Linked DNA regions of Homo sapiens: all the other regions are linked to region 1. Evidence: fine-mapped expression QTL. A gene starts in region 1. Each other region holds a variant in brackets. All regions are shown on one strand. Distances are from middle to middle.

Region 1 (7,684 bases):
AAAAAAGGTGTTGCTTGAGCTAAATTTTGAATATGAGTAGGAGTTACATCAGTGGATAAGGAAAAAAAAAAAAAGCATTCCAGGAAGAGGTAACAGCACATGCCAAGGCATGGAGCTATATGGGGACTCCATCATGACTTAGATGGTATGAAGCCAGCCTGGGGGCTAGATAGAAATAGGCAAGGAAACGTGTCTTCACATAAGAATTAGCATCAGCCCAAAGAACTGGTTTGAGATAGTATGCTTAAAATATTTGTTAGAATATGTATTTGAGTTTCAAGGAGGAAGAAAATCCCAGAGAATTGGATTTGCTGAGGCCAGGAAGAGGGACTGCCCTGATAAGTTCCAGCGCTGACCAGTGAGTGCATTGTTTGGCCTTAGGACCCAACAGGAAACTCCTTCGCAACCTAAGAGCTCGTAGGTGGTGACTGTAGTGAATCACTGGGGCTTTCCCTCTGGGAGACTCCTAAGCCTCAAAAAAACAAACATACAAAAAGAGAGAGAGCCAATTAGCCCACACAGCTCTGCTTCAGTGAGAGGACCCCAGTAAGATGAAGCATTTCTCAAAACCAAACAGCCAACATATATCTAAAAGGGCTTCATAAACTGTAACATGCTATCTAAATAAAAGGTTCTGTCATTACTATCATAAGGAAGGCAAAAATGTGGTCAGTTTACACTCAGAGTATATGGGCAAAAGTAATTTTGGCAGGGCACTGGCAGGAGGGCTGAATGTGGCTGCCAGAGGAGGCATAGCACAGCAGCTGAGTTTCAGTGATGCTTGGGAAAAGGCATACTCTATATTGGTTCCTGTGGATATTCTGTAATGCCATAATTTCCCCCTTACTTTTCCTACTCTTTATAGTGAATGATTAGAGAAATGCAGACTGATTCTATGTGAACTCCTCAAGGGCAAGAAACTCTCATATTTATCTAGCATAGTGCCTGGCAAGTAAGTAGCACTTAGTAAATGTAAGTGAGTCTCTGAGGGGATTGCTGGAAGAGTGGGGAGAATGGAGGGGGATGTGCTAATGGAAAAAATAATCATGTCTTCAGCTGGACACTGATGGTCTTGGTTTCTTGGTCCAAAGCTGGCAAGCAATTCCTGTCAGAATTTGGTCATTAAGATTGAGGGGTGGAGTGGATAATGATATTCCCATCAGAAATGAATAAATCAATTTGGGACATGAAGATAGCAGAAGCCAAGCAGCACTGCTGGAGAGAAGCGTGTGGGACTAAAAGATAATAGATTCTGTAGCTAAAGAGAAGGGAAACTATTTGCATGAATGTGATTCACTTAGGAACAGGTGTAGTGGAAAAAATTGCAAGGAGTCGGGGAAATGGGCCTGGGGAGGTCTTACTATCCATGTTGAAGGAAAGGAATGGCAAATGTTAGAAGAAGACAATGTTAGAAGATTGGAGAATATGTGAAAGATCAAAGGTTGAGAAATCCAGACAGTAAAATCCAGACACATTTGGGTAAGCTCAAATGAAACTGGGTGAGCCGTTCTCTCCCCTTTTATTTCCCTTTGGAGAGAGCATTTTTGAGAAGGTTAAGGCCACCTGGTGACATCTTTCGTGCACATTCTGGAATGATTTGATTTGCAGACTCATGCTGTGACTAGGGAGAGTTAGGCTGTATTCTTAGGATTTTTGAAATCTTAATTTTACCCAATGCTGGACATGGGGAAGCTGATATCCAAGGTCCAAGATTAGGGGAGAGCCTGGATCCATTTAGTGATTTTTCCAGGGTCATGAGTGGGTGTGATAATAAGCACCCTCAACAAAAGACCAATTTAGGAATAAAACCTCAATGACAAATCAATGATCTGGAACAAAGATCATATCTTCAGGTTTGGTCCTTCTGACTTTCTTTAAATATATGCCTACCTATTTATTCTGATCTGTTAAGCTGATCAGATGGGTTTGAACTGAAAGGGGGATTATAAACAACTTTACAATGGGGAGGTCCTAACCAACAAAAACCTTTGTCGGGCTTTACTCCACTGAGTTGCGCGCAAGGTAGCATCACTGAGTTAAAAGAAAAAAAATCTAACAACTGGTAAACTATGTTGTTCTGTTTTCCCACTAGCTTGGTCTCTCTCCTCACTATGTAATTCCAGGAGCCAAAGGAAGCCACTTCTGTTCAAGGAGGATTTAACTAGGTTTGACTGTGTGGAAGAAAGCAGGGAAGGGGAGCAGGAAAACCCTTCCAGAATGGCTCTAATGAATATCATTGCTTGGCCCTCTCACCACTCCGTTTTTGGACAAGAAACCAGAATCCATCCTTGGAGCTCAAAGTTGAACTCTTGGGATTCAGCTAGAATGAAAACAACGAGGGGGCGAGATGAGGAGGCAACACTATGTCTGGCGCAGACCCTTTGCGCTCCCCCTAACAGACTCCCAGTGAGCCTTCCTTGGCTCTGCACCTTTCCTGTCCTCCTCCTCCTCATGCAGAGGCACTCTTGGGCAAAAGTGTCCTGAGTGCTATCTGTGGACCATTGTCCACCGGTGCATGTAGTCAGAGGGTCACAAGGACAGTGTGGATCGTGCTTCCTAAAAGTGATCCTGTCTCTCCTTTCTCTCCTTCGAGTATTCGGTAGCAGGTAGGGTGGTCTTGGGACACTCCATCCGCAGAAGGGTCCCCCTAGATCCCCAGAGAAAGCCCTGTCAAAAACCACACCCAGAGGCCTCAATTAGGTCCAGAGCCACCCCAAGGCATCATGACAGTGGGACTGCCAGTGAAGGAAGCCACACCCTGAAATCTGGGGATTCTGTGGAAATCAGTTCCTGCAGCAATCTCATGGCCAGTTAAACTGTCCTCATCCACTTATTTAATCATCACATTTACTGAGCTTGTACCACTGCAAAACCCTATGCTCGGCAGGCACCTTAATGCAACTTATTAACAAATATCTATTCTTTCTTCTGCTGCTCCTTAGTACTTTTTCCCAAATAAAATTTGAAAAACATTTTATGATTATGTTTTTCATCAGCTTTGTGACCTTGGGCAAATTGCTAAACCTCTCTGAGTCTCAATGTTTAAAAGGGGATAATTTCACAAAGCTGTTGTAAGAGTTATATGAGATGTTTAAACATACCTAGTATACTGCCTAGCGTACTGGTGCTCAACAATCCCATACATCCTTTATTCCTTCCTTCAAAGGCCTTTCCCTCCAGGACCTGCCAAAGTCAGTTATTCCACCTGATCTTACTGCTTCCTTCCGCACGGTCAAACCTAGGGGCTCAAATCTCCTATCTTTGCTTTAGAGGCCTCACTGGTCCTCATCCTCGGCTTAGGGCCCTGTGCTCTCGCAGCAGTTTCTGTCTCCACTAAAATGCAGCGTGGAGCAACTGGGCTACCATGGAGAAGAAAAATCCGAATGGGGAAAGAGGAGGAATGGAAAGAGGCTGCAGCCCTAGAAGGCCCCCACCTCTGGGCCACGGTGTGGGGATACAAGTAAGGGCACATGGAACCCTACAGGGATCCCGGTGGAGGCCAAAGTCCTTGGAGCCGTGGGAAGTCACTCATGGATCCCATGGGAGGATCCCCCTCCCCAGTCAGAGGTTGCTTCCCACAGTTCTAGGGCACAGTCTCAGGTCCTCCTTTTCTAGGGAGCCCTCTGGGGGCTCCACCACCTCGAGGTTCCTGCGGCTCCCCTATGTTCCCAGGTGGTCTTCCATTGAGCCAGCTCCAGAGACCACCCTTGTGCCTGCTCCCACAGTGACACAGAAGGGCTCTCTGGGGCCAGTCCCCTCCACGCTGGGGCTCCCTATGGCAGCAAATGCAGACAGCGCCGCGGGAGTCCATTCCCACAGGGGGTCTTTATGGGGGCGGCTCCCCACAGCACCTCAGGGACTCCCCCAAGGCGTAGAGGCAGCAGCTACTTGGGGTTCATCCAATGACACAGGGGGGCCACCTTGGAGGCGGCTCCCACACAAGCACCTCAGAGTCCCGGAGGACTGTCCGCGGCCGCAGACCCGCCCCTCAGGTGACGGCCCGGTCCCCGCCGCCCCCGCCCCCGCTTACCGGGACCGTCCGGGTGCGGGACGCGGCTCCGGGGCGGCGGACTCTACACACCGCGGGCCCCGCGCAGCCCACGGCAGCCCGAGAGCCGGCGTGCTGGGCCGAGCGCCGGCAGCAGGCGGCGCGGGCGGAGCGGCAGGCTGAGGAGGCGGCGGCGGCGGCGGCGGCGGCGGCGGCGCGCGCGGCCGGAGCACACCCACCCGCCCCGGGGGGCTGCGGCGTGTGCACCCGCGCGAGGTGCCCTGGGCCGGCCGGTGGGCGCGCCCCGCCCCGCCCAGTCCTCTTGCGCCTCCAGGAGACGCCCTCGCGGCTCCGCGGGCGGCGGGTGACCGGCGACGGGCGCGCGGGCGTGGGGCGCCGTGGGAATGCGGGAGGACGGCGGACGGCTCCGATGAGCAGACGGCCCAGGTGCCCGTGGGCGCCCCCCACGAGCGCCCGGCACTGCGGCGCGGGGACTGCGCCAGCGGCCGACTGCGGCAAGGACAGTGCCCGCCCGGAGGAGGCGGCCCGGAGGGGGCGCCTTGGGGGCGCTGGGGCCGCTCACCGCTCGCGTTCCGCGCCGGGGGTTGGGTGGGGGGAAGGCGGGGTCCGGGTGGATGCCGCCACCAGCACGTGCCCGGGGTGGGGAGAATGACTCATCCAGCAGGGCCTACCAGCCGTCCCCCGCAGGGCTCCGGGCTCACGACCCCTGGCACTGGGGCACTCACCTTTGCAGTACCCCACTGGCCTCCGGAGGGTCCCAACGAACCTTCACATAATCCTCGGCTGGCCCAGCCTACCCTATGCGCTGTTTTCTGGGATTATTGGTTTTTCATCTCCAGCAGCGAGGCTGTGCTGTCGTGTAACCCACTTTTTGCTGCAGCAACCTCATCCCTCACAATATCCAAACAGCTAGCTTGTCAGAAGGCCAGCAATTCTGAGGGCTATAATGTGCATTACACCAAACTACATGCTTTGAAGAGGGCAAGAAAAAGATAAAATCGTAAGATAGCCAGCAACTAATTATAAGGAAAAATTGAAGATATGCAAATGATATGTCGAGAGCCCTTTAATTTATATTAATTGCACTTACATTTTTAAAATACCTTTATTTTCTTGTGCATTCAATTTATTTACCTCAAATATAATGCATGTCATTTTTTTGAGCGTCTAGTATTTGTTACATACTGTGCTAGGTACCCTGGTGCGATATAAAAAAGAAATTTTGCCCTTAACATGGAATTTACCAATAGAGGATATAAGGCAAGTATGGTATATTTCTATCACTTTAAAACACGAAGTGCCAGGTACTATTCTAAATGGTTTAAATATGTTGTCATTAATTTTCACACCATCCCTTTGAGGGAGTCTACTGTTAGTTTCGACATTTTGCCAGTGATGAAACTGAGGCAAAGAGAGGTTAAACAACTCGCCCAAGGTCACATGGCTAATATGTGATGGAGGTGAGACTGAAATTCAGGTATTCTGATTTCATACCGCAAGCTCCTATTTCTCAGTCCTGCCACTGAGAAAGGAGAGGCTATAAACCATTAATATATGGAGTTCTAAAATTAGTACTTATTAGTTCTAAAATTAGTGCTTATTTCTCAAGAGACACTATGGTTATTTTGCTTGTTGTGAAACTAGCACTAAAAAGCAGACTGAGCCTTCCATATAGTCTGGGGGTCCCCCCCTAACTTTCTTTAGAATTACATCATACCGACAGTTTCACAGATAGACTTCTCTGAACTGTTTTTAGTAAGTGTTTTATTTCTAGGCTGTCTGATGGGCTTATATGGAAAAGGAGGTTGTAACATCATCATATAAATCTCTGTCGGTTAATTCCTTCCTTCATTCAAAAAAATTTATATTGTGGCCAGGCGTGGTGGCTCACGCCTGTAATTCCAGCACTTTGGGAGGCCGAGGCAGGTGAGTCACCTGAGGTCGAGACCAGCCTGGCCAACATAGTGAAACCCCACCTCTACTAAAAACACAACAATTAGCCAGGTGCAGTGGCACGCGCCTGTGGTCCCAGCTACTCGGGAGGCTGAGGCAGGAGAATCTCTTGAATCCAGGAGGCAGAGGTTGCAGTGAGCCAAGATCGCACCACTGCATTCCAGCCTGGGTGACAGAGCGAAACTCCGTCACACACACACACAAAAGTACATTGTGTATCTGTACAATGCCAGGCATTGTGCTGAGAACTAGAAAGGGTGCAAATAAGAGTAAGACACAGTACTTTCCCTCAAAGAACTATAATCTCATAGAGGACAAGCATTGACAGAGAACCATAATCATAATACAAAAGAGAAAATCAGTGTGCGCAATAGAGGAATGAAATACAATGGAAGTTCCAAGGTGGGAGAGACAGATTACTTTATGAAGGGAGGTACTTGGGTTAAGGAATGCATAATGACCATTTAAATTATTGTTGGTATTAAAACATTAAAAGTCATATCAAAATTTATCAATTTCATTTTTTAATTACATGCAGTTTTTCTCATGTTGAGGAGAGACAGCTTTTACTACGTTATTGTTCAGAGAATGGAGAGGTTAGAAAGTGCAAACTTTTTGGAGGTAGTTTATGCAAGTGGAGGACACAGAATTATGCACAAGATAAGATTTTCAAGGTCAAAGGAATAGCAAAAGAAAAAGCAAGGTGGGATTGAATAAGGTTGGTCTGGGGGCAGCTGGGACTCTGACAAGGTGAAAGGGTTGCTAGAGAGCAGCCTGTACCACTCTTTTTTTTGAGACAGAGTCTCATTCTGTTGCCCAGGCTGGAGTGCAGTGGCTTGATCTCGGCTCACTGCAACCTCCGCCTCCCAGGTTCAAGCGATTCTCCTGCTTCAGCCTCCCGAATAGCTAGGATTACAGGCATGTGCCACCACACCTGGCTAATTTTTGGATTTTTGGTAGAGACGGGGTTTCGCCATGTTGGCCAGGCTGGTCTTGAACTCCTGATCTCAGGTGATCTCCCTGCCTCGACTTCCCAAAGTGCTGGGATTACAGGTGAGCCACTTGCGGCTGGCCCTAGCCTGTACCAACCACTCTTAACTGTCTTTACAAGGTAGGGACTGTTTTCAACTTTCTTTTCTTTTTTTTTTGCATATTCTTGGCTATGGCAAACATATGCCAAAAATATTCTGAGGTGGTCTGAGTTCAGATATTTATGACCATAAGTTTTTGGGCTTATAAGATTGACAAATACGGTTACCACCATGTTAATGTCTAGAAAGTAGAGAATATTGTTCTGGCTGGGTATGGTGGCTCACACCTGTAATCCTTGCACTTTATGAGAGCGAGGTGAGAGGGTCACTTGAGCCCAGGAGTTTGAGACCAGCCTGGGCAACATAGCAAGAAACAATCTTTCACCTCCAGCAGCGAAGCTGTGCTGTCGTGTAAAATTATGTTAAAAAATAATACTTAAAGAGAATATTGTATGCTCAACTAATATGTAATAAAAAAGGAGTTGGGAAAGGAAGGGAAGGCTATTTGATAAGTAACTAAATTCTTAGATGTTTTAATATGGTAGATAATAGAGAGCCTCTATAAGTTTTTGTTTTTGCTTTTTGAGACAGGGTCTTGCTCTGTCATGCAGGCTGGAGTGCAATGCACTATATGTGTTTTTTTCCTTATAAGTTTTTGAGCAGAGTAGTAACATCTTAAGGACCATCCTAA
Region 2 (7,684 bases), 180 kb after region 1:
CAAATGGGCTAGAACAGGAAAGGCAACATTATACATCAATTAAAAAGTTAAACTGGAGTTCAGGTTGTATTCCAGAAACCGCTATTCACTTTATTTGATATTCTTTATAAGGGAAGCTTGAGGTTATTAAGTCACTGCCCTCCCAATGCAGTATTACATTTTCTGTAATCTGTAGGAAATAATATCAGGAAACTGATCAAATTCCAAGTCCCTAAATATTACCAGAACAACTTATTGATAAGAAAAAGATTATTTTATTTCTTACAGTGATAAGGGAGACATAATATGGTAGTTTCTTGGAGGAGAATGAACAAGATTTGATTTATTCAGATTTTGAAGTCTAGTTTAAGGCAGGTCTGTCAGAGCAGGGGTGAGTGCAATAGAGAGGGCTTAATTAGGATAGGGTAAGGGCTATGATAGAATATTAGGATTGGTGAAAAAAGAAAAGAGGTCGTTTTGAAGCCAGGAGCACAAAGTCTTGGGATGTGAAGACAATTGAAATTAAAGTCATGTTAACGTAGATAGTAAGCTGTGTAGGAGTAAATGGTTTCAGTTCTCAATATTAAGAGTCCGGAGAAGAGAGGATGGATTTTAATAAGTTATCGGGCCCTTTCATGAAATCCATGTGGATAAGATGGCGCAGTGTAACTTGCTTCCTTTCACGCTTATGACTAAACCTGGTGGTCCTGGTTGAAGCATCAGCCAAGTATATCACTGTCAGGATTTAAGTTCTAAGGACTGAACTGGGATGGGGCAGCAAGGAGCAGGAAGATCCAAAGTGAATTTAAACAGAATTCTTAAGCAAAGCTGAGAGTCAAGCTGAAAAATGAGGATCAATTGGGAATTCTGGAGGCAAGAGCAATGCTACAAATAAGAAAAGAGATAGGTCAGAAACAGGTCAGAAACAAAACGCAACCTAGATGAACACAGTTTGCAGCTAAATCAGGAAGGGCTTAGATGGATGTTTTCTGGGATTGGAGTTCAAGTATTTGAGGCTTTTCTGATGCCTGGTGCTTGGATAAGTCAGACTAGCTTAAAGATATAGGTTTGGAGCAGGGATCCATCCCTCATCCTACCCCATCCCCAAACCCTACCACTGCTATGTAGGCCTCTCCCAATCAAACAGTAGGTTGGGTGTGGAGCTTTCTCAAGTTTGTTTTGCATAAGACTTGGCATGTTTGAGAAGCTCTTCCAAACATGGAAGAAGAGCTACTTCCCATGAATTCATAAATGCCTCTCTAAGTCAGACCCTTACCTCTGCCTCAGGGATTGGAGTAGTCTATATCGCTGTTGGAAGTCTAGTACTTCCACTTCATGCTCTTGCTCTCTACCTCTAGTGACAGGATGAGTCACTGGACTGGAAGGCAGATTGGATCTGTATTTTTAGCCATATGGCATTCAAATATCTCTGTGACCTTGAATCAGTCCAAGAAATAATCCTCAACTTTTCATAAGCGGGGTATGGGATTTGGTGGGGTGAGGGAGGCAAACTGCTAGAGAATAGAGGAGCTGTGGATGGAGTGAACTAATGAATTGTTGAGAGATGTGTGTCTACCAGAAAACAAACCACGAGTGGTTATTATTATACGAAATTGCTGAGAAATCCTCCCCTGTCCCTCCTCTACCCTACTTACCCCAAAATCACTGAGTCTTGCTCTCATTTTTCAGGCCTCTGACATGTGACCATCCACTGATTTGCTAACTGCCTCTGTGATCTCCACTAATAATTATCCACTGAGCACTTCAGTGAGTTTTGTAACCCAGCTCTCGTGCAAGTTGGAGGACTTCATTTACTCCCTCAGTTTCATCATTCCTCCTTCTTCAGGAAAGAATCTCACATTCCAGAGCTAGCTCATGTACCCTGCTTCCTGTCCCATTATGGGTGGAGATTTGGACATTTTTGCCTAGAACCCATGATTTCAGGAGGTTCTTCTCTCCCATGTGGGGACAATGAATGTAATTTCAGCCCTTCTATTCTTACTGTGCCTGGGAAATGTCACATTAATAATAGAAATAATACAGAGTTTTGCAGATAACTGCTGTACTTACCAACCTATTGATTGCAAGAGTGGAATTCACTGGCACATGCATTGTTGCTGCTTTCTCCCCCTACAGAAAATGATGGGGTTGAACTAACACATTTCCCAACTACTTCCTACAATGCTTTTTTTTTTTTCCCTAACAGCCTTACTGAGATATAATCCACATACCATAACTTCAGCCATTTAAAGTGTACAATTCAAGGGGTTTTGCTCTATTATTCATTATTTTAAGTTGTGGTGATGATAGATAACATAAAATGTGCCATTTTAACCATTTTTAAATGTATAATTCGGTAATGTTAGTTACATTCACAATGTTGTACAACCGTCACATTATCTATTTCCAAGACTTTTTCACCAACCCAAACAAAAACTCTGTTTCCTTTAAGCAATAATTCCCCGCTCTCCTTGCCTCCAAACCATTAGGTTATCTATTCTACTTTCTGTCTCTATGAATTTGCCTATTACAGGTCCCTCATTCAAATGAAATCATATAATATTTGTCCTTTTTGTTTGACTTATTTCACTTAGTGTAATATTTTCAAGGTTCAGAACTTCATTTTTTATGATTGGATATTTTATTATATCTATATACCACATGTTGTTTACTTATTCATCTGTTAATGGACCTTGGGGTGTTTCTATCTTCTGGTTATTGTTGAATTATGCTGTTATAAACATTTATGCACAAATATCTGTTTGAATTCCTGTTTTCGGTTAGTTTGGGTATTTACCTAGGAGTGGAATATAGTAATTCAATGTTTAACTTTCAGAAAAATTGCCAAACTGCTTTACACAGCAGCAGCAGCACTATTTTACATTCCCACTGGCAATGCGCAAAGGTTCTAGTTTCTCCACATCCTCATTAATAATTGTTAATTTCTGTTGTTGTTTTATTATAGACATTCTAGTATATGTGATAGTGGTATCTCATTGTGAAAGGGGTACCTTACTGTGGTTTTGATTTGCATCTCCCTAATGACTAATGATGATGTTGAGCATCTTTTCATGTGCTTGCTGGCCATTTGTATATCTTCTTTGGAAAAATGTCTATCCAAATCCTTTGCCCATTTTAAAAGTTGGGGTTTATTTTGCCATTGTAGTTGAGTTGTAGGATTTATTTATATGTTCTGAATGCTGGGCTTTTGTCAAATGATTTTCACTCCCTTGATGCTGTCCTTTGATGCACAAAATGTTATTTTTATGACATCAAATTTACCTATTTTTCTTCGTTTATTGTGCTTTTGGTGTAATATTTAAGAAACTATTGCCAGCTAGGTGCAGTGGCTCACGCTTATAATCCCAACACTTTGGGAGGCTGAAGCAGGCAGATTGCTTGAGCCCAGGAGTTCAAAACCAGCCTGGGCAACATGGTGAAACCCCTTCTCTACAAAATACAAAAATTAACTGGGTGTGGTGGTGTGCTCCTGTACTCGGGAGGCTGAGGCGGGAAGATCACTTGAGCCCAGGAGGTGGAGGCTGCAGTGAGCCATGATCACACCACTGCACTCCAGCCTGGGCAACAGAGTAAGACTGTCTCAAAAAAAAAAAAAAAAAAGAAAAAAAGAAAAAAAAGAAAGAAGAGAAAAGAAAAGAAAACATTGCCAAATCTAAGGCTATAAAGATTTCTCCCCATATTTTCTTCTAAGAGTTTTATAGTTTTAGCTTTTAAATTTAGGTTTTTGATCCATTTTGAGTTACTTTTTGTACAGCGTGTAAGGTAAGGGTCCAACTTCATTCTTTTGCCTATGGAGATCCAGTTTTCCCAGAACTATGTGTTGAAAGACTGTCCTTGAGTGGTCTTGGGGCCCTCATCAAAAATCAACTGACCAGCTGGGCACAGTGGCTCACGCCTGTAATCTCAGCACTTTGGGAGGCTGAGGCAGGTGGATCACCTGAGGTCAGAAGTTCGAGAC[C/A]AGCCTGACCAACATGGTGAAACCCCATCTCTACTAAAAATACAAAAATTAGCGGGGCGTGTTGGCAGGCGCCTGTACTCCCAGCTACTCAGGAAGCTGAGGCAGGAGAATCGCTTGAACTTAGGAGGTAAAAGTTGCAGTGAGCCAAGATCGCGCCATTGCACTCCAGCCTGGGCGACAAGAGTGAAACTCCATCTCAAAACAAAACAAAACAAAACAATTGACCATATATGTGAGAGTTTAGTTGTGGGCTCTCAATTCTCTCCCATTTGTCTATATGTCTACTATGCCAGTAAAACAATATTTTGATTTCTGTAGAATTGTAGTAAGTATTGAAATTGTGAAGTGTGATTCCTCCAACTTTGTTCTTCTTTTTCAAGATTGTTTTGGCCATTAGGGGGTCTCTTAAAATTTCATCTAAATTTTAGGATTAGCCTGTCAATTTCTCCAACAAATTCAACTGAAATTTTGATAAGGATTGTGTTGAATATGTAGATTAATATAGGGAGCATTGCCGTCTTAACAATATTAAGTCTTCTGATCCTCAACGTAGAAACACATAGGAAAGTTAAAGAAAACATAGATTTTCTTTGCAGGAAGCTTCTTAATTACTAATTTAATCATTTCAAAGAACCAAGTTTTGAGTTTGTTGATTTTTCTCTATTCTTTTATTTTCTCTTTCATTTCTTGCTGCTCTAATCTTTATTATTTTCTTCCTTCTGCTTGCCTTGAATTTAGTTTGCTCTTCTTTTTCCAGTTTCACAGGGTGGAAAATTATGGATTTGAGATCTTTTTTCTCTTTTAATATAGATGTTTATCACTATAACTCCCTTTCAGCACTGCTTTTGCTGCTTTCCATACGTTTTGGTAGTTATCTTTACCTCAAAGTATTTTGTAATTTCCCTTATGATTTTACTTTAACTCACTGTTTATTTAGCAGTATGTTGTTTAATCTACATGTTTGTGAATTTTCCAAATTTCCTTCTGATATTGATCTCTAATGTCATTCCATTGTAATCAGAGAATATATTTTCTGTGATTTTGATCACTTTAATTTATTGAGACTTTTTTTATGACCTAGCAAATGGTCTTTCCTGGAGACTGTTCCAGGTGCACTGGGAAAGAATGTGTATTCTGCTGCTGTTGGGTGGGGTATTCTATAGATGTCTCTTAGGTCTAGTTGATTTATAATGTTGTTTATGTCTTCTGTATCCTTGTTAATTTTATCTCTAGCTTTTCTATCCATTATTCAAAGTAGGTGATGTCTTTAACAGTTATTGTTGAAATGTCTATTTCTCCCTTCAGTTCTGTTAGTTTTTCTTCATGTATTTTGGGACTCTGTATAAATACGCATACATTTATATGTGTTACATCTTCCTGAGGGATTGACCCTTTTATCATTATGAAAATGTCCATTATACCTAATGGCATTTTTGTCTTAAAGTCTATTTTGTCTGAGACCAGTATAACCCACTGTAGCTCTCCTATGGTTGCTAGTTGCATGGTACACCTTATGCTATCCTTTTATTTCAACCTATTTGTACCTTTGTCTATAATACATCTCCCTTAGACATCATGAGGCAGGATCTCATTTTTGTAACCCAATCTGACAATTTCTGCCTTTTGATTGAATTATTTAATCTATTTACTTTTATGTTATTATTGATATGGTTAGATTTATGTCTGCCATTACGCTTTTTGTTTTGTACGTGTCTCATGTCTTTCTTATTCTTCTGTTCCTCCTTACTGTGGCTGATGAGAGACATTTCACACCTTATCCACTAAGAAGAACCAAAATAGTGAGTAGATAATCACACTTTGAATAGATCATCCAAGAGAGAACACTGGAATCCAATAGAAAAGTGACAGGTAATACCTAAAGCAAGGAAGAAAAACAAAGCATGGCAGCCCGATTGGCCAGAATTAGCTAGAAACCAATGTGGGGAAAGGGTAAGTGAGAGACCCTCAGCAATCCACATTACCACCACAGACTTCTGCAATCCTAGCCACTGGAGAGTCCCATGACCCTTGTGGGCCCTAAAACTAAAGTAGGAAGCTGACAGGAGATTGTGAAATGACACTGCTCCAGGGAGGGAGCTAACATTGGGTCCCTGAGACCTAAACAGCTACAGAAAATTGCCTCACCCTCAAAAGACAGTACACTGTCCTGGAGCTCAGCAGCGCTGGGTCTGAGGCACTAGAGAAGCATGGGCTTCTGTCCCCAGGAATTAGGCACCAGCTACCATGGGCTACCACATCCCAGGCTGAGGGCTGAGATACTTCCATTGGGACTGAGGCATGAGCAAAGCACTACTTTGCTACTGCAGCAAGGGCTGAGGCACAAGTACCACCAGAATTGAAATGTGAGAGGCATGCATTTTCCACCCACTGGCCTAGGCTGCCACCACTGAGGGCAGCACCACCCTCCCTAGTAGTAGGGTATCAGTACGGCCATTGCCCAACTTCACTGCCCTCGCCCTAGCCACAATCTGGGGGCTAAGGGATCTCCCAGCCCAATCCACCACCATTGGCATCTGAACATTCCTCCCAGGCTACCTGTGGGCCTAGAGACTGGCCTGCCCAGACCATCACATTCACTACCAATGCCAGCACACACCAACCAGGGCCCAGAGAGTCATCCCACCACTGCCATCACCCTCACCATGCTGGCTTCCCAGGGTCCTGAGAACCTCCCCACCCACCCAGCCTACTGCTGCCACTACTGACATCTGAGTAAGACACATAGAGGCCCAAGAATCAGCCCACCTGGACCCCCTAAAACCAGTACAAGCATATACCACCCTGGGGCCCAAGAACAGACACACTCAGCTACTGCTGCCACCAATGGGGCCCAAAGACTGCCTTACCTGGCATCCCCATCCCCAGAAAATCTTCACTGCCTCCTCTAATAACTGCATCCTAAGCCACTGAGGAAATTACAGATACCACTGATGCTGTTTACAGCCAAATAAATCATACAAAGACTATGCTACTGCATGCACCCAGAATCAAGCCATAGTGTGTCATCAAACCAACACCTTAGATACATCTTCAGGAAAAAGTCCTCCCCTATGAAAGTAAATTCAAATAATTGGAAGAGGGACCAATTGTGTTGTCCCAATTGTGTTGTCCCAATTGTGCAGACATCAATGTAAGGACACAGGAAACATGAAAAAACAAGGAAATGTTACACCTCCAAAGGAATTCAATAATTCACCAGCAACAGATCATGATTAAAAAGAAATTCACAAGATCTCAGAAAAATAATTCAAATTATTGATTTAGATGAAGCTCAGTGAGATACAAGAGAATTCTGAAAACCAATACAGAGAAATCAGAAAACAATTCAGGATATGAATGAGAAATTTGCTAAAGAGATAGATAAATATAAACGAGAACCAACAAAAATTCTGGAACTCAATAATTTATTTAATGAAATGCAAAATACATTCAAACACTTTAACAATAGACTAGGCCAAACAAAGAAAGAATCTCTAAACTTGAAGATAAGTATTTTGAAATAATCCAGTCAGATAAATAAAAGGATATAATAGAATGAGCAAAGCCTCCATGACATATGGGACACCATAAAGCAGCCAAATTTATAAATTACTGGGGTTCCAGAGCAAGGTTCTGGGTGGAAACAGTGGCATGTAATCTTGGATTACTTCTCCAGTTGTGGAATTTCCATCCTAAAAGTAAGTTTTAAGAGTACAGTTAAAATAT
Region 3 (7,684 bases), 34 kb after region 1:
TCCTGTTGTGCCGTCAAAGAGTAGATTTTTTTTTTTTTTTTTTTGAGACAGAGTCTCACTCTTGTTGCCCAGGCTGGAGTGCAATGGCGTGATTTCAGCTTACTGCAACCTTCACCTCCTGGGTTCAAGCGACTCTCCTGTCTCAGCCTCCCAAGTAGCTGGGATTACAGGCACTCTCCACCATGCCTGGCTAATTTTTGTATTTTTAGTAGAGGCAAGGTTTCACCATGTTGGCCAGGCAGGTCCAAAGGTAGATCTTATTAATTCTAGCTATTTTTCTATATCCATTAACTATCCCCACCTCCCCCCAGCTCCCAACTCATTAATGTTTTAAAACATAAGTTTCATGAAGTCACACCTCTGCTTAAAATCCTTCAATAGTGACATTGGCAAGATGGCTGGATAGAGATGCCTGGTATTCATCTATCCCACAAGAAAGGCCCAACACAATGAATAAACAAACTAAGGTTTGACTGGAGTGTGGAAGGGAGAGTGGTGGAGTGTGGTGGGGGAGTGGAGATGCACCTGTGGTGATCAGAAATCCAGGAGGGCAGCGAGGAAGCACTGGGCCTCTATAGCCCTGTCTCCCCCACCTGGATTGGATGTGCCCAGAGTCAGGAAGGACTTCTTATTGCAGGGAAAAGGTAAGCACAAGATCTCCACCAGCCCCCACTGGCACTGCAAAAACCTACAGTCCTTATTACAGAAGAATCCTACGGTCTTCCCAAGCCCTGAGCCCAGTTTGAAGAGCTGCTGGGTATGCAAGCAGCTACATTGCTCCAGATTAGGAGAGCAAGGTGTGCACTCCCCATTCCCCCCATCCCACTCCCTGTGGGCCAAGCTGCTGCAGCATAATGCCATCTTGAGAAAAGAGCAAACTCTGAAGCACACCCTGTTCTGGGGGCCGGTAGCCACTGCATATCTCCAGCACTGGGGCGCTCCATCCTCATTATGCCAAGCCCACACCACACGGTTGGCTGAATGCCATACGTCAGCTGCACAGAGCTTGGGCCTAGGATCAGCTGTGACTCTGGTCCTGCACAGCAAGAAAACAAACCCCTGCTTACTGCACTTCCAGCCAGATGAACAGTCTGCCAGTCCTGCCCAGGGCCAACCTGCCTTGAGCTGGCCAAACTGCTCTGCACCCTCCCACAAGAGAGAGAGGCCCCTGAGCCTCCTAGTAGCTAATATGCACCCAGGCCAGTGGAGTGGCTATGCTCCCATGCTCAGGACCGGAGAAACAGCCCCACAGCACCCCTGCCTCTGCAGACATGCCCCTGGCCTGCCTAATGGCCCTGCATTTCCCATAAAGACCTGGGAAATACTCCTTCAGGCTGCCCCCGGTAGGCACGACCCCAAACCAGCTAAGCAGCCAAGAGCCCACATCCAGGACTTGAGAAACAGCTCTGTGGGCCACCACTAGTGAACATGCCCTGGGCTGGCCAGGAAGCCATGTGCCTGCATACCAGGCCTAAGAAACAGCCCTGTGGGCCATCTCCAGCAGAAGTATCCCCAGGTCAACTGAGCAGCCACGAAGCTGTGTCATGAGCCTGAGCAACAACCCTGTGCCTGCCCCCAGACCTGTCTCCTACGCCAACACAGCAGGTGTGCACCCATGTCTCAGGCCCCAAAAACAGCCCCACAGGCCACCTCTGGTGGGCATACCTGCAGGCCAATCAAATAGCCCTGTGCTTACATCTCAGACCTACAAAACAACCCTGTGGGCCACCCACTGCAGAAACACCCCCAGGCCAGTCAAGCAGTTGTGCAGCTGTGTCCTGGGCCTGAGAAAATGTCCCATGAATCACCCCATCAGGTGTATCCCTAGGCCAGCCAAGCAGCTATGCACCCATATACCAGGCCTAAGAGACAGCCCTGCTGGCCTCTCTGGTGGGCATTCCTCCAGGTCAGCTGAGCAGCCTTACACCCATGTCCTAGGCCTTCGAGAAACAGCTCTGTGAGCCACTTCTGGCAGGCATGTCCCCAGGGTGGCCAAATAACTCATGCTCCTGGACAGAGTAATAGCCCCATGGCCCCAGCCCCAGTGAGCCAGATCCCAAGTTGGCCAACTCACCATATGCACACACATGCCTCTGACCTGAGAAACAGGCCAGTGAACCCAGCCCTGGCAAAGTTGCACCACCATTGCCACAAATTATTTCAGACTAGGCCACTGAGAAATGGCCAAATGCCACTAGTGTGGATAATGGCTGAAGAAACTACATGGAGGTTACATTACACTACTGTATCTTCCTAAAACCAAGGCCAGTACACCCCATGAACCAACACCCCAGGTCCCATTCATATAAACAAGTCTTTTCTTATGAAACCTACTCCATAAAATTGGAAGAGGTGATTTTTCCACCAAAGGCATATAAATCAACATAGGAACACACAATCATGACAAAGCAAGAAAACATGTCACCTCTAAAGGAAAAAGACAATTCTCTAGTAACAGGCCCCAATCTTGAGGAAGTAGATGAAATTCCAGAAAAAAGAATTCAAAATAACAACCTTAAGGAAATGGATTGAGATACAAGAAAAATACAGATAGACAATTCAATGAAATCAGGAAAACAATTGATAATTTGAATAAGAACTTCAACAAGAGATAGATATCATACAAAAGAGTCAAACAGAAATCCTAGAGCTAAAAAAGTCAATGAATGAAATTAAAAATACAATCCACAACTTCAATAATAGACTAGACCAAGCAGAAGAAAGAAGAAAGCCTACTAAATTTTTGGCACACTATAAAGCAAACAAGTATTTGTATTATGGGTGTTCCTGAAGTAGAAGAGAAGGGGAAAGATGAGGAAAATATATTTAATGAAATAATAGCAGAAAACTTCCCATGTCTTGGAAGAGAAATAGACGTTTAAGTCCAGGAAGCTCAAAGAATTGCAAGTAGATTCAACCCAAACAGGTTCTCTCTGAGGAACATTATAGTCAAATTGTAAAAAGCCAAAGACAAATAATTCTAAAAACAGCAATAAAAAATGTCAAGTCACATATAAGGGGCCCCACTAACAGCGGATTTCTCAGCAGAAGCCTTACAAGCCAGGTGAGTGAGGAGTGAATGGGATGATATATTCAAAATACTGAAATAAAAAAATCCTGCTAGTCAAGAATATTATAGCCAGCAAAGCTATTATTCAGAAATGAGGGAGAAATAAAATCTTTCATAGACAAGCAAAAATGAAAGGAATTCATTACCACTAGGCCTTACAAGACATGCTCAAGGGAGTCCTACATCTGGAATTGAAAAGATGATTACCATTATCAAGAAAACATGTGAAACTATAAAACTCACAGGTAGAGCCAATATACAAAGAAGAAAGAGAAAGGAATCAAAGCTTAGCACTACAGAAAACCACCCAACTGCAAAAATAAACAATAAGAGAGGTGGTAAGGAACAAAAGATATACAAAACAACCAGAAAACAAATAACAAAATGGCAGCAGTCCTTACTTATCAATAACAACATTGAATGTAAATGGACTAAACTCTCCAATCAAAAGACATGGAGTGACTGAATGGATAAAAAACCAAACCCAACTATCTGCTGCCTACAAGAAACACACTTCACCTATAAAGACACAAATAGACTGAAAATAAAGGAATGGAAAAAGATAATCCATGCAAATGGAAACCAAAAAAGAGCAGGAGTAGCTATACTAATATCAGCTAAAATACATTTCAAGACAAAAACCATAAAAAGAAACACAAACGGTCATATTATATGTTGAAAAAGGGGTCAATTCAGCAAGGGTATGTAACAAGTATTAATGTATATGCAGCCAACACTGGAGTACCCAGATATATAAAGCAAATATTATTACAGCTAGAGAGATAGACCCTTATACAATAATAGCTGGAGACTTCAACACCCCACTTTCAGACTTGGACAGGTTTATCTAGACAGAAGATCAACAAAGAAACAAAAGGACCTAATCAAAATTTACAGAACATTTCATCCAATGGCTGCAGAATACACATTCTTCTCCTCAGCACATGGAACATTCTCAAGGACAGCCCATATATTAGGCCACAAAAGAAGTCTTAAAAATTTCAGGAAAACTGAAATAATATCAAGTATCTTCTATGACCAAAATGGAATAAAACTAGAAATAATAAAAGGAATTTAAAAAACT[A/G]TACAAGCACATGGAAATTAAACAATATGCTCTTGAATGACTAGTGGGTCAATGGAGAGATTAAGAATGAAATTGCAAATTTTCTTAAAACAAACCATAATGGAAACAACATACCAAAATCTATGGGATAATCTAAAAGCAGTGCTAAGAGGAAAATTTATAGCAATAAGTGCCTACATCAAAAAAAGTAAAAAAAACTTCAAATAAACAAACTAATGATGCATCTAAAAACCTAGAAAAGGGCAAACCAAACTCAAAATTAGAAGAAAAAAGTAATAAAGATCAAAGCAGAAATAAATAAAAATGAAAACAATATAAAAAATCAATGAAATGAAAAATTGTTTTTTTAAAAGATAAACAAAATGGACAAACCTTTAGTTAGACTAACCAGGAAAAAAGAGGGAAGACCTAAACAAAATCAGAGATGGAAAAAGAGATTACAACTCATAATGTAGAAATTCTGAGGATCATTACAGACTACTATAAGCAACTCTATGCCAATAAATTGAAAAACCTAGAAGAAGCAGATAAATTCCTACATACATACAACCTACCTAGATTATATCATGAAGAAACCCAAAACCTGAGTAGGCCAATAACAAGTAATGAGATCAAAGCCATAATAAAAGTCTCCCAGCAAAGAAAAGCCCTGGACCCAATGGCTTCACTGCTGAATTTTACCAAACATTTAAAGAAGGACTAATACCAATCCTACTCAGACTATTCCAAAAAATACAAGGCCAGTATTATCCTGATACCAAAACCAGACAAAGATACATCAGAAAAAGAAAACTACAGGCCAATATGTCTGATGAACATTGATGCAAAAAATCTTTAACAAAATACTAGCACACTAAATTCAATAACAGTTAAAAAGATCATGATCAAGTGGGATTCATCCTAGGGATGCAAGGATGTTTCAACATATGCAAATTAATCAATGTGATACATCATATCAACAGAATGAAGGACAAAAATCATATGATCATTTCAATTGATGCTGAAAAAGCATTTGATAAAATTCAACATCCCTTCATGATTAAAAAAAAAAAAAAAACAAAAACAAAACTTAAAAAACTGGGTCTAGGCGGGCCGGAGCCCAGGCCCGGCCCAGCAGCACCCCCCAGGTAGACTGGGGCGAGGCCATGCCGACACAAGGTGAGACCACTGCTGGAACATCCAGTAATGGATAAAAATGAGCTGGTTCAGAAGGCCAAACTGGCCGAGCAGGCTGAGTGGTATGATGATATGGCAGCCTGCATGAAGTCTGTAACTGAGCAAGGAGCTTAATTATCCAATGAGGAGAGGAATCTTCTCTCAGTTGCTTATAAAAATGTTGTAGGAGCCCGTAGGTCATCTTGGAGCATCGTCTCAAGTATTGAACAAAAGACAGAAGGTGCTGAGAAAAAAACAGCAGATGGCTCAAGAATACAGAGAGAAAACTGAGACCTAGCTAAGAGATAGCTGCAATGATGTACTGTCCCTTTTGGAAAAGTTCTTGATCCCCAGTGCTTCACAAGCGAGAGCAAATTCTTCTATTTGAAAATGAAAGGAGATCACTACCATTACTTGGCTGAGGTTGCCGCTGGTGATGATAAGAAAGGGACTGTGGATCAGTCACAACAAGCACACCAAGAAGCTTTTGAAATCAGCAAAAAGGAAATGCAACCAACATATCCTATCAGACTGGGTCTGGCCCTTAACTTCTCCGTGTTCTATTATGACGTTCTGAATTCCCCAGAGAAAGCCTGCTCTCTTGCAAAGACAGCTTTTGATGAAGCCATTGCTGAACTTGATACATTAAGTGAAGAGTCATCCAAAGACAGCACACTAATAATGCAATTACTGAGAGACAACTTGACATTGTGGACATCGGATACCCGAGGAGACAAAGCTGAAGCAGGAGAAGGAGGGGAAAATTAACCGGCCTTCCAACTTTTGTCTGCCTCGTTCTAAAATTTACACAGTAGACCATTTGTCATCCATGCTGTCCCACAAATAGTTGTTTACAATTTATGACAGGTTTATGTTACTTCTATTTGAATTTCTATATTTCCCACGTGGTTTTTATGTTTAATATTAGGGGAGTAGAGCCAGTTAACATTTAGGGAGTTATCTGTTTTCATCTTGAGGTGGCCAATATGGGGATGTGGAATTTTTATACAAGTTATTAATGTTTGGCATAGTACTTTTGGTACATTGTGGCTTTACAAGGGCCAGTGTTAAAACTGCTTCCATGTCTAAGCAAAGAAAACTGCCTACATATTGGTTTGTCCTGGTGGGGACTAAAAGGGATCATTGGTTCCAGTCACAGGTGTAGTAATTGTGGGTATTTTAAGGTTTGGAGCACTTACAAGGCTGTGGTAGAAACAGATATCCCACAGATACCACATGTTAAACCATGTATATCTGTGGAACACTCAATCTCAATGTGCATACCCTTGACTATAGCTGCAGAAGTGTTCCTTTAGACAAAGCTGTGACCCATTTTACTCTGGATAAGGGCAGAAACGGTTCACATTCCATTATTTGTAAAGTTACCTGCTGTTAGCTTTCATTATTTTTGCTACACTCATTTTATTTGTATTTAAATGTCTTAGGCAACCTAAGAACAAATGTAAAAGTAAAGATGCAGGGAAAATGAATTGCTTGGTATTCATTACTTCATGTATATCAAGCACAGCAGTAAAACAAAAACCCATGTATTTAACTTTTTTTTTAGGTTTTTTGCTTTTGTGATTTTTTTTTTTGATACTTGCCTAACATGCATGTGCTGTAAAAATAGTTAACACGGAAATAACTTGAGATGATGGCTACCTTTGTTTAATGTCTTATGAAATTTTCATGAACAATTCAAACATAATTGTTAAGAACACGTGTATTAAATTCATGTAAATGGAATAAAAGTTTTAAGAATGGAAAAAAAAAACAACTGGGTATAGATGAGACATACCTCAACAAAATAAAAGGCATATATGACAGACCCACAGCTAGAATCATATTGAACAGGGAAAAACTGAAAGCCTTTCTTCTAAGTTCTGGAACGAGACAAGGAAGCTCACTTTAACTGTTATTCAACACAGTACTGAAATTCCTAGCTAGAGCAATCAGACAACAGAAAGAAAGGGCACCCAAAGAAAGGAAAAAGTCAAATTTTTCTTGTTTGCAGATGATATAATCTTGTATTTGCAAAAACCTAAAGATTTCACTACAAAACTATTAGAACTGAAAAACAAATTCAGTAAAGTGGCAGAGTACAAATCAACATACAAAAATCAGTAGCATTTCTATATGCTAACAGCAAACAATCTGAAAAATAAATCAAGGAAGCAATTCCATTTACATTATTACAAATAAAATAAAATATCTAGGAACAAACTTAACCAAAGAAGTGAAAAATCTCTATAATGAAAACTATTTGACATTGATGCAAGAAATTGAAGAGGACACAAAAAATAAAAAGATATTCCATATTCATAGATTGGAAAAATCAATATTGATAAAATGTCCATATTTCCTAAAGCAATCTA
Region 4 (7,684 bases), 26 kb before region 1:
GGCGCCCACGTCACTGTCTCCCAGGCCCATCTGTGCTCGAGGGAGCGGGGGTGGGGAGGGAGTAATTTGGGGGTGAAGTGGGGGAGGGGAGTGCTGGGGGGTTGATGATGATAGAAGGGTCAGGCCGGAAGCTCCCCTTTACTTCTTTCTTTCCTATTTTCCAGAGACAGAGTTTGGACACCCATGAGGTCTTGCTAGAAACTGCAGCTTGAGTACCTGGGCCAAGAGCAGAGCAAGGCGGGGGGGGGGTGCCAGGGTCCTGGAGTCATGTCTGTAGATTCTTCACTACCTACCTTCATGCCAGGAGTCACTATGGGGCTCCCAAGGGTAAAGGGGCATGAGGTGTGAAGGAAGAAAGAGACTTGGGGTGAAAGGAGGATGGAAAGGAAGTGGGGTTGGGGGCCAGGAGGGGAGCAGAGATGGGTGATGAATGTGGGGAAATGAGCATGAGGAATTTGAGGAAATGGGGTTGAGGGGGGGAGGTAGGGAGAGGGGGTGGTGAGAGGATGGTGAGATGGGGTGAGGGGGATGAGGAGGGGAGGGGCATGGGGCAGATGAGCCATAGGGTGGGAGTAAGGAGGGCAGAGGAAAGGAGGGCTGGGGAGGGGAGGGAAGGCAGGGTGGGGGATAAGGAAAGAAGGGCTGGGGAGGGGCAGGAAGGCAGGGTGAGGGATGAGGAAAGAAGGGGTGAGTAATGAAAGGATGAGGCACAGAGATGGGGTGAGGAGGAGTGAGGAAGGGGGAGGGGAGGGAGGAGGGATGGACATCTCTGTGTGACACAGAGATGGGTAAGGTGGGGTGAGGGGCCCTGCACCGCTGCTGGCTCCTCAGATCTGGGGGCTCTCACTCTTCCACCTCCACACCTGTGGGGCCCAGGCTGTGGGTGGCTCTACTTCTTCCTATTCCAGTTCTGTCTCTTTTGCCTCCCCCAGCCTTGCCTGTGCCAACACGGAGGCAGAGAGTTTAGTCACCAGCCTTTACCTGGCCCCTGCTAATGCTAAAGTGTAGGCTCGGACCTTTGAGGGTGCAGAACTGTGCCTTCAGGTGTTGGTGGCACAGACTCCACTGTTTGCCTAGTCCTCGGTTCCCGCCCTCAGTCCCATTGTCCTGGGTGTCACGTGTGTGTAGTGCTCAGTGTGGCATGGACTGTGACAGTGTGGTCTGGAGTCTATGCACCTTGTGAGCTTACACGCCACACTCATGCCTCATCTCCTTTGTAAATGGGGATTGGTGCCTCAGGGGGTTGTTGAGAGGGTTAATTAAGGTAACACAGGTAGTGCACTTAGTTCTGAGCTGGGCATGTAGTTTATACCCAACCAATGGTTAACTTGGTTAACTCAACCAAGTTAACCATTACTCTACATGTTCACAGATGCTGGGAGTGCGAGTGCATCTATAAATCTGTGAGTCTGGGAGTTATTTGTAGTGTGGTACTGGTAATGTGATTTGTGAGTGGATCTGTGCAGTTATTTTTGTGTGGTGGTGTGCCTGATTCTGTTATATGTTGTAGGTATATGATTTTGGGTCAGTGTACATGTGTGAGTAAATGACTGTGCGGGCATGTGTCTACATGACAAAGAGTGGATAAGGTATATAGGCACTGACACATTGACACCATGTCTGCCAGCGTATGCACGCATCTGCGATCATGCCAGTCCCAAACGCCCCCACTCACCCTCCCTCCCCTTGGAGACGTCATAACCCTAGGTGTCCCTCATTTCCTCACCCTGAGGGAACCGGAACCCGTGGGCAGGGGTGGGGGTGGGTGCCAGTGAGGAGGTGTTTTAGACAGAGGCACATGTTCCCTCCCAGACTGTATAGGGAAGGGAGCCCCTATCCTGCTCACATCCCGAAGGCTGCAGAGGAAGTGCCCCCAGCCTGTTTTCAGTTCCCTGTCTTGTCACCATGGTAATGGTTGCCAGGGGTTCCCATGGTTGCTAAGATCTGGGTGTGGGAGGCTGCCAGGCCCTGTTGCCAGTAGAAACAGAGAATCCTGGGGGGAAGGAAGACTACCCTCACAGCTGCCACCTCCCTGCAGTGACAGAACTGGCCCTTGGGCCACTTCTCTCCCCCAGTTGTACCTATGAGTTGTATGTGGTAGTACTAGTGTGTGTGTGGGAGCAGGAGCGGGGGCTTTAACAGGAAACCAGAACTAGAATACTGGGATACTAGAATACTGAGGAACAGGGGGCTACTTGGCCTACCCATCACCATCCTTAAAGTTGGGAGGGCCTTACGAATTAGTGACTACCTGCCATCTCTACTAAAATACAAAAAAAATTAGCCAGGTGTTGTGGCACATGCCTGTAATCTCAGCTACTCAGGAGGCTGAGGCAAAAGAATCGCTTGAACCCAGAAGGCAGAGGTTGCAGTGAGCCGAGATCGCGCCACTGCACTCCAGCCTGGGTGACAGAGTGAGACGAGACTCCCTGTCAAAAAAAAAAAAAAAAGAAAAGAAAAGAAAAGAAAAAAAAGAAATGAGTGACTATCTCCTGCTGTCCCCTGTCCCTCATATCTCTCCCCTGGGCAGTCTCCATGTTTGTTCTTGAGTTCTCCAGTGCCTGGGTACTCATTACCTGATGCTTTCTCCTGGGTGTAGGAATGCCACGTTGACCCATCACCTTGGCTGCAGATGGCCTCCCTCCTGTGATCAGACTCTGAGCATCTCACCTGATACATGCTTCATGCTGACACTCAGGCCCAGACTTTGGTCCCACACTGAGTCCCAACTTTGACCTCAGCCTGAGACACAACCTGGTTATTGTCCTGGTAGAGACAGTTCCCCGAATCCAGCCTCTGCCCAAACCCTCCTCCTAGACATGGCTGAGCCCTAATTTTGATACAAAATACTTGAATTCATCTTCAGATTCAGTTCTGATCCTATACTGAACTAACTGAACACTACCAGGGATCTGACTCCCTGATATTCGCTGGCGTCTCCCTGCGTGTTCTGAACCTATGCTGACCAGCACCAGAAGGGTTCAGAGGGGTGATTTCTTGCCTTGGGATGAGAGAGCAATGTTAGGGATGACCAGCAGAGGG[C/T]GTGCAACATCAGGTTCTAGAGGCAAGCGTCCAAGAGCCCACCTGTGAGCTAAAAAAATTAAAGTTCTCGTTTTTGACACCAAAACTTTGGGGTTATGTGGGTTCTTACAGTCATGAATCTTCTCCTTCTGGCTCACCTGGGCTCAGCACTGGGTATGCACAGAATGTGCTTAACTGTTTACTGGCATCTCAGGTCTCAAGAGGACTGAAGTCACCCCACCCCCAAATCAGCATTTCTGTCACATGCTTAATACAGCTCCACTGCCTTCCTGGTAACCAGTTATGTTTGGTCCTATTGAGCAGAAATCTGCCTCTCCACAGTGTTCACATTTCATCTTAGCCCTGTCCTTGGGACCACACTGACCTCATTGGTCCATCTGCCAAACATCACCATCTGCATCCTTCAAATCTGCTTCTCTCCAGGACCCATGCCTTCATGGACTCATCCCCTGCCTTTCTCAATTCTACTCACTAAGATCATGTTTCCCTGAATGGGTTTCAGTTTGTGGTGCCCAGTTATGATTAGCTTTTTCCAGGAGAGCTGGTGCAGGGTACGAATGAGCCGGCCTGCCTCCCTCCTCTGACTCTGAACTTCTTTCCACATAGGCTCAGATTACATCAGTTTTTTCTGTGGTTGTTGTTTTGTTTTTCTTTTGAGATGGAGTCTCGCCCTGTTGCCTAGGCTGGAGTGCAATGGTGTGATCTCGGCTCACTGCAACCTTTGCCTCCTGGGTTCAAGCAATTCTTCTGCCTCAGCCTCCTGAGTAGCTGGAACTACAGGTGTGCACCACCACACCTGGCTAATTTTTGCATTTTTAGTAGAGACAGGGTTTCGCCATGTTGGCCAGGCTGGTCTTGAACTCCTGACCTCAGGAGATCCACCTGCTTCGGCCTCCCTAAGTGCTGGGATTACAGGCGTGAGCCATCGCACCTGGCCCATCAGTTTATTTTTTGGTAGCCACCTCATACTGTTCACCCATACCGAGTTAAGGCCATAAGCTCTTTTCTCCCTGAGCTGCTAAATCACCTCTTGTTCATGTGTACGTGTTATAATTTTGAATGGAGAGCTGTATTCATTTTAAACAAAGATACTTGAAATAAAATAAATTTGTTGGCAATACATTCTCAATTTTAGGACAATCTTTGGGCTTGGAAATCTCTGTACTTGATGGTTACTCAAAGGTGGGACAAGGAGGGACTGAAGGTCCTCAGCTGGCTTGGCTATGACTTCAGCACTTTGGACAGAGGCAATCACAGTACCCACCCCACCCCGACCCAGCTATGCCTGGGACTGTGTGAGTGTGGAGATGATACACTCACAGCCTTCAGATGGAGCAGAAATCCTTGCTACTTACTCAGTGCCTTACAATCTGTAAAGCTCTCTCCTCTTATACAAAACTCTTTCCTCAATTAACCAGCCCAGGAGGCTTACAGGACAGGGACTGTCCTACAGATTTTACAGTCGAGGAAACTGAGGTTCAACAAAGTCAACCTCCAAGCAACCCTTAGAAAGGGTGGGGTGGGAGAGAGCACTACTCCATGTTTAGCAAATTTAGCAGCCATTGATTCTCTTAAGGAATGACTCTCCCCAGGGATAAAGAGGAAATGAATTTGAACCAGAGCAGGACAAGGTGGGTGGAGGTTTGTGTAGAACCAAGACCCCGGCCAGTCCTGGGAACAAGTGGCAGTTGGTGGGAGGAACAGTCCTCAGAGGGTCTAAAGTTCCAGCCAGGACTGCTGAACTGAGGGCAGGGAAACCTTATTCATTCGGGCCCACAGACACCCAGCCTTTTTATGCCCTTTTTCTGTCCCAATGCTTAGCTTCACTGAGCCTGGAGACAAGGACAAAGGGCTGGTGGGATGTCATTAATCTGCTCTCAGTCTGGTGGACCCCATGGGAAGAATTCAGGGAGGAGAGGTGTGGGAGCCTGGTGAGCGGATGGAGTGAATTGTGCAGTGGTAAGAAATCCGTGCCATGGATACAGGCCTGGTTACCTGTCTGTGTCTATTCCCAGGGTGGGGAGGGGAGGTGCTGGCTCACACAGCAGTGGTTCCTTTGAGATGTGCTTTGACAGGAAGCACAACAAAGTGGCTAAGAACATGTCCTCTGAAGGCAAACTGCCTGGTTCCCCTACTTCCTGTGTGGTTGTGTAACCTTGAGAAACATGGACTCTCTGTTCCTCATTTTTCTCACCTGTAATAAAAATCTCATAGGATTATTGTGAAGATTAGTGACTCTATGCAAAGCACTGCCAAGTGCATAGTAAGTGCTCAAAAAATGTTAAAGACGACTTGTACTTGGGACCCTCTCTGGTTTTGGAGGTAGAGTATCGGCCTTTGATCCACAGCCTAGAGATGCTGTCTCACCTACAGGTACTGACTCTGTTCTCACCAGATAAAAGGGAGGAATGGGGATCCCATAGTCCCCCAAATGGCATCTCCAATCTTAGCTTTCCCAACCCTATCATATTACATTAAAGCAATTTGTCAAAATGGGGAGGAAACACTCAGACCAGGAGAAAACAGCCAATGAGTTTCCTTACTTTTAGCTCAGGAGGAACTGGGAAGTGTCTAAAACTGGCCCTGGGGCATGGCACAGGAGAGGGACAACACAGAGCAGACAGCCTTGGAGACCTTATGACCTCATCCTCAATTTCTTTGAAAGCTCTGGCTCTCCACTTCAGTGCTCCTGTTTCTGCTCTGTATCTGTGCTGGATACAGAAATATCAGTATCTCTGTATCTGTATGTGTGGTGCCCCTACCTCTACCCATCTCTTGATTTTTGGGAAGGTCAGGGCCAGGAGAACTCTAGAAAGAGTCACAGCATGTTGTGTCCTTCCTGGCAGCTGCAGCTGCCCCGGTCTTATGCTCAGACCCAGGAATTGATCAACAATGGGAAACCACACAGAAATGGCAGGTTCCCCAAACAACAAGAAACAGGAAGCCGACAGAGCATCGCAATCGCTTTATTATGATTTCCACTGTGCCCAGCCTCAGGGCATCAGCTTCTTCTGGAGCGCTGTGAAGGCTGGGCCACGCAGAGGAGCATGCAGCTGTAGAGACAGGGAGACAGGGCTTGGGGACGTTCCCCTCAGCTTGCTGTCAAGTTACCTTCTGCAGAAAAGCACATGGGAAGGGCATGAGGGACCAGAGCGCATTGGATTCCCAAGTGTTGCTCAAGTGTTCTCAGAGTCCCTCTCACAAACTTGGGTTTGGCTGGGGGACAGATCACAGGCCAACCCATGATGGCAGGAGGCTAATCTTGAGGGCCTTTGTGTCACCATGGCTATGAAAAGGCCTGGCTACTTATAACTTGATGTTCTTAACTGTGGGTTGTGCCTACCCAGTGCTATAGAAACTGGAATGTGATTGGGCTTCTTAGTCACTGGCCCAGACCAGAGCTGACCCCCTTTCCATGCTCTGGGTCACTGGGGCATGTGGCCCAGAGGAAAAAGCTTTCCCTTAGTGCTAGCCGAAATTCTGTAACCTGTTTATTTTCTTTCCAAGGTTGCCAAAAATAGTGGTAGCAGAAAAGTAACAGCAGAGAAAATGCCCAGTCCCACCCTACACCAGGGCTGAGCTGTCAGGAACAGGCACGATGCGTGAATATCCCCCACTCCAGGAGATCTCGCCATTGTCTGGGTTGCAGCCAGGGGCCCAGACAGATATCCTGGGCAAATTCAAACTAAGTGGTAGGAGAAAGTAGCATTTTTTCAGATAAGAGCTTGAAATAAGGAAAATTAAAAAAAAAAAAAAAAGAAAATAGGAATTTTATTTCACTGTAAATAGAGGAGGGGTAAAAAGGGACTGTGGTGACAGTCCTGAAGTTCTGGCATCAAAACTGTTCTGCCTTTTAGGGCCACACATCTGTCTGTCTTCACTCTGCTGGTCTGAAGGGAACATGCTTTCAGGATCACTAGAGCCAGCTACCAGTTCTCAGTCCTGCTTGAAGTTTCTCTTGGCTCTGGGGTGGGCCTGGCTGGCCTGGGGCCTTGCCAGGCAGCTTCTGCTGACCTTCCCTCTTGGCTTTTGGGCTTCCTGGCACCACTCTGACTGAAGCTGTGAAACCTGCAATGGCCGAGGTTGTGCTTTGGGCTATGAGTCCTGGGTATAACCTTGGGGCTCACTCCCCCAAGGAGGTGTCCTCTTCCCAGGCAGTTTAATGCTGTGTTTTTCATAATGGTGACAGGAATAAGGGGACCCTAAGACTTGGCCACTTAAGCAAGGTCAGGGTGACATCCCATAGGGAGCAGCAGGACCAGAAAGGCTGGTATCTGCCCTGCTAGCCCCAGGTACTTGGGCTGAGGGCAGAAAGAGGCAATGTCCTCATGGTTTCTACTGTAGGTGTCCTCAAATGAAGAGGAGCACTTGAAGGTTAGATCAGTACCTAGAGTGAGGGGACTGCTCCATCCCTGGGATACTCTAGGGGCCCTTGCTCAAGTGTTCTGTTGGGGAAGGCTGGGCTCAGGAGAGGAAGCCAAGGAGCAGACTTGGAGTGGTTTTGTGGCCAGGGCCACTGCTCAGCTGACCCTCGGTCCCTGCAGCTCCACCACATCCTCCAGCTGCCCCTTCATTCACATCTGAACATGAGGAAGAGGAATGCTAGGTGAAAAATGCTTAGGGCAAGTGGGCTTCAGAGGAG

What was found. PIP is the estimated chance that this variant, and not a neighbour inherited with it, causes the effect.
Region 2: its variant is the best candidate, but not a certain one, in a credible set for the expression of PHF24 in whole blood (TOPMed, PIP 0.88).
Region 3: its variant is the best candidate, but not a certain one, in a credible set for the expression of PHF24 in whole blood (TOPMed, PIP 0.84).
Region 4: its variant is the best candidate, but not a certain one, in a credible set for the expression of PHF24 in whole blood (TOPMed, PIP 0.65).

What each region holds. Positions count from the first base shown.
Region 1 is chr9:34,954,748-34,962,431 of GRCh38, reverse strand. It overlaps PHF24 (PHD finger protein 24), which reads right to left and starts at 4,147. Exons shown (of 8, transcript NM_015297.3): 1 at 4,031-4,147. RefSeq lists a silencer at 4,020-4,099 and an enhancer at 5,449-5,588.
Region 2 is chr9:34,776,215-34,783,898 of GRCh38, reverse strand. It overlaps a transcript of PHF24 not described here. Among named protein-coding and RNA genes, the nearest start is that of SPATA31F1, 51 kb to the right of the region's middle. The variant C/A (reference allele first, on the strand shown) is at 3,959.
Region 3 is chr9:34,920,577-34,928,260 of GRCh38, reverse strand. It overlaps a transcript of PHF24 not described here and the pseudogene YWHAZP6. Among named protein-coding and RNA genes, the nearest start is that of SPATA31F3, 29 kb to the right of the region's middle. RefSeq lists enhancers at 941-1,461, 1,462-1,983. The variant A/G (reference allele first, on the strand shown) is at 4,155.
Region 4 is chr9:34,980,853-34,988,536 of GRCh38, reverse strand. DNAJB5-DT (DNAJB5 divergent transcript) reads left to right here. Exons shown (of 2, transcript NR_109756.1): 2 at 2,600-3,127. It overlaps PHF24 (PHD finger protein 24), which reads right to left. Exons shown (of 8, transcript NM_015297.3): 8 at 5,993-7,684. Among named protein-coding and RNA genes, the nearest start is that of DNAJB5-DT, 4.7 kb to the left of the region's middle. The variant C/T (reference allele first, on the strand shown) is at 3,043.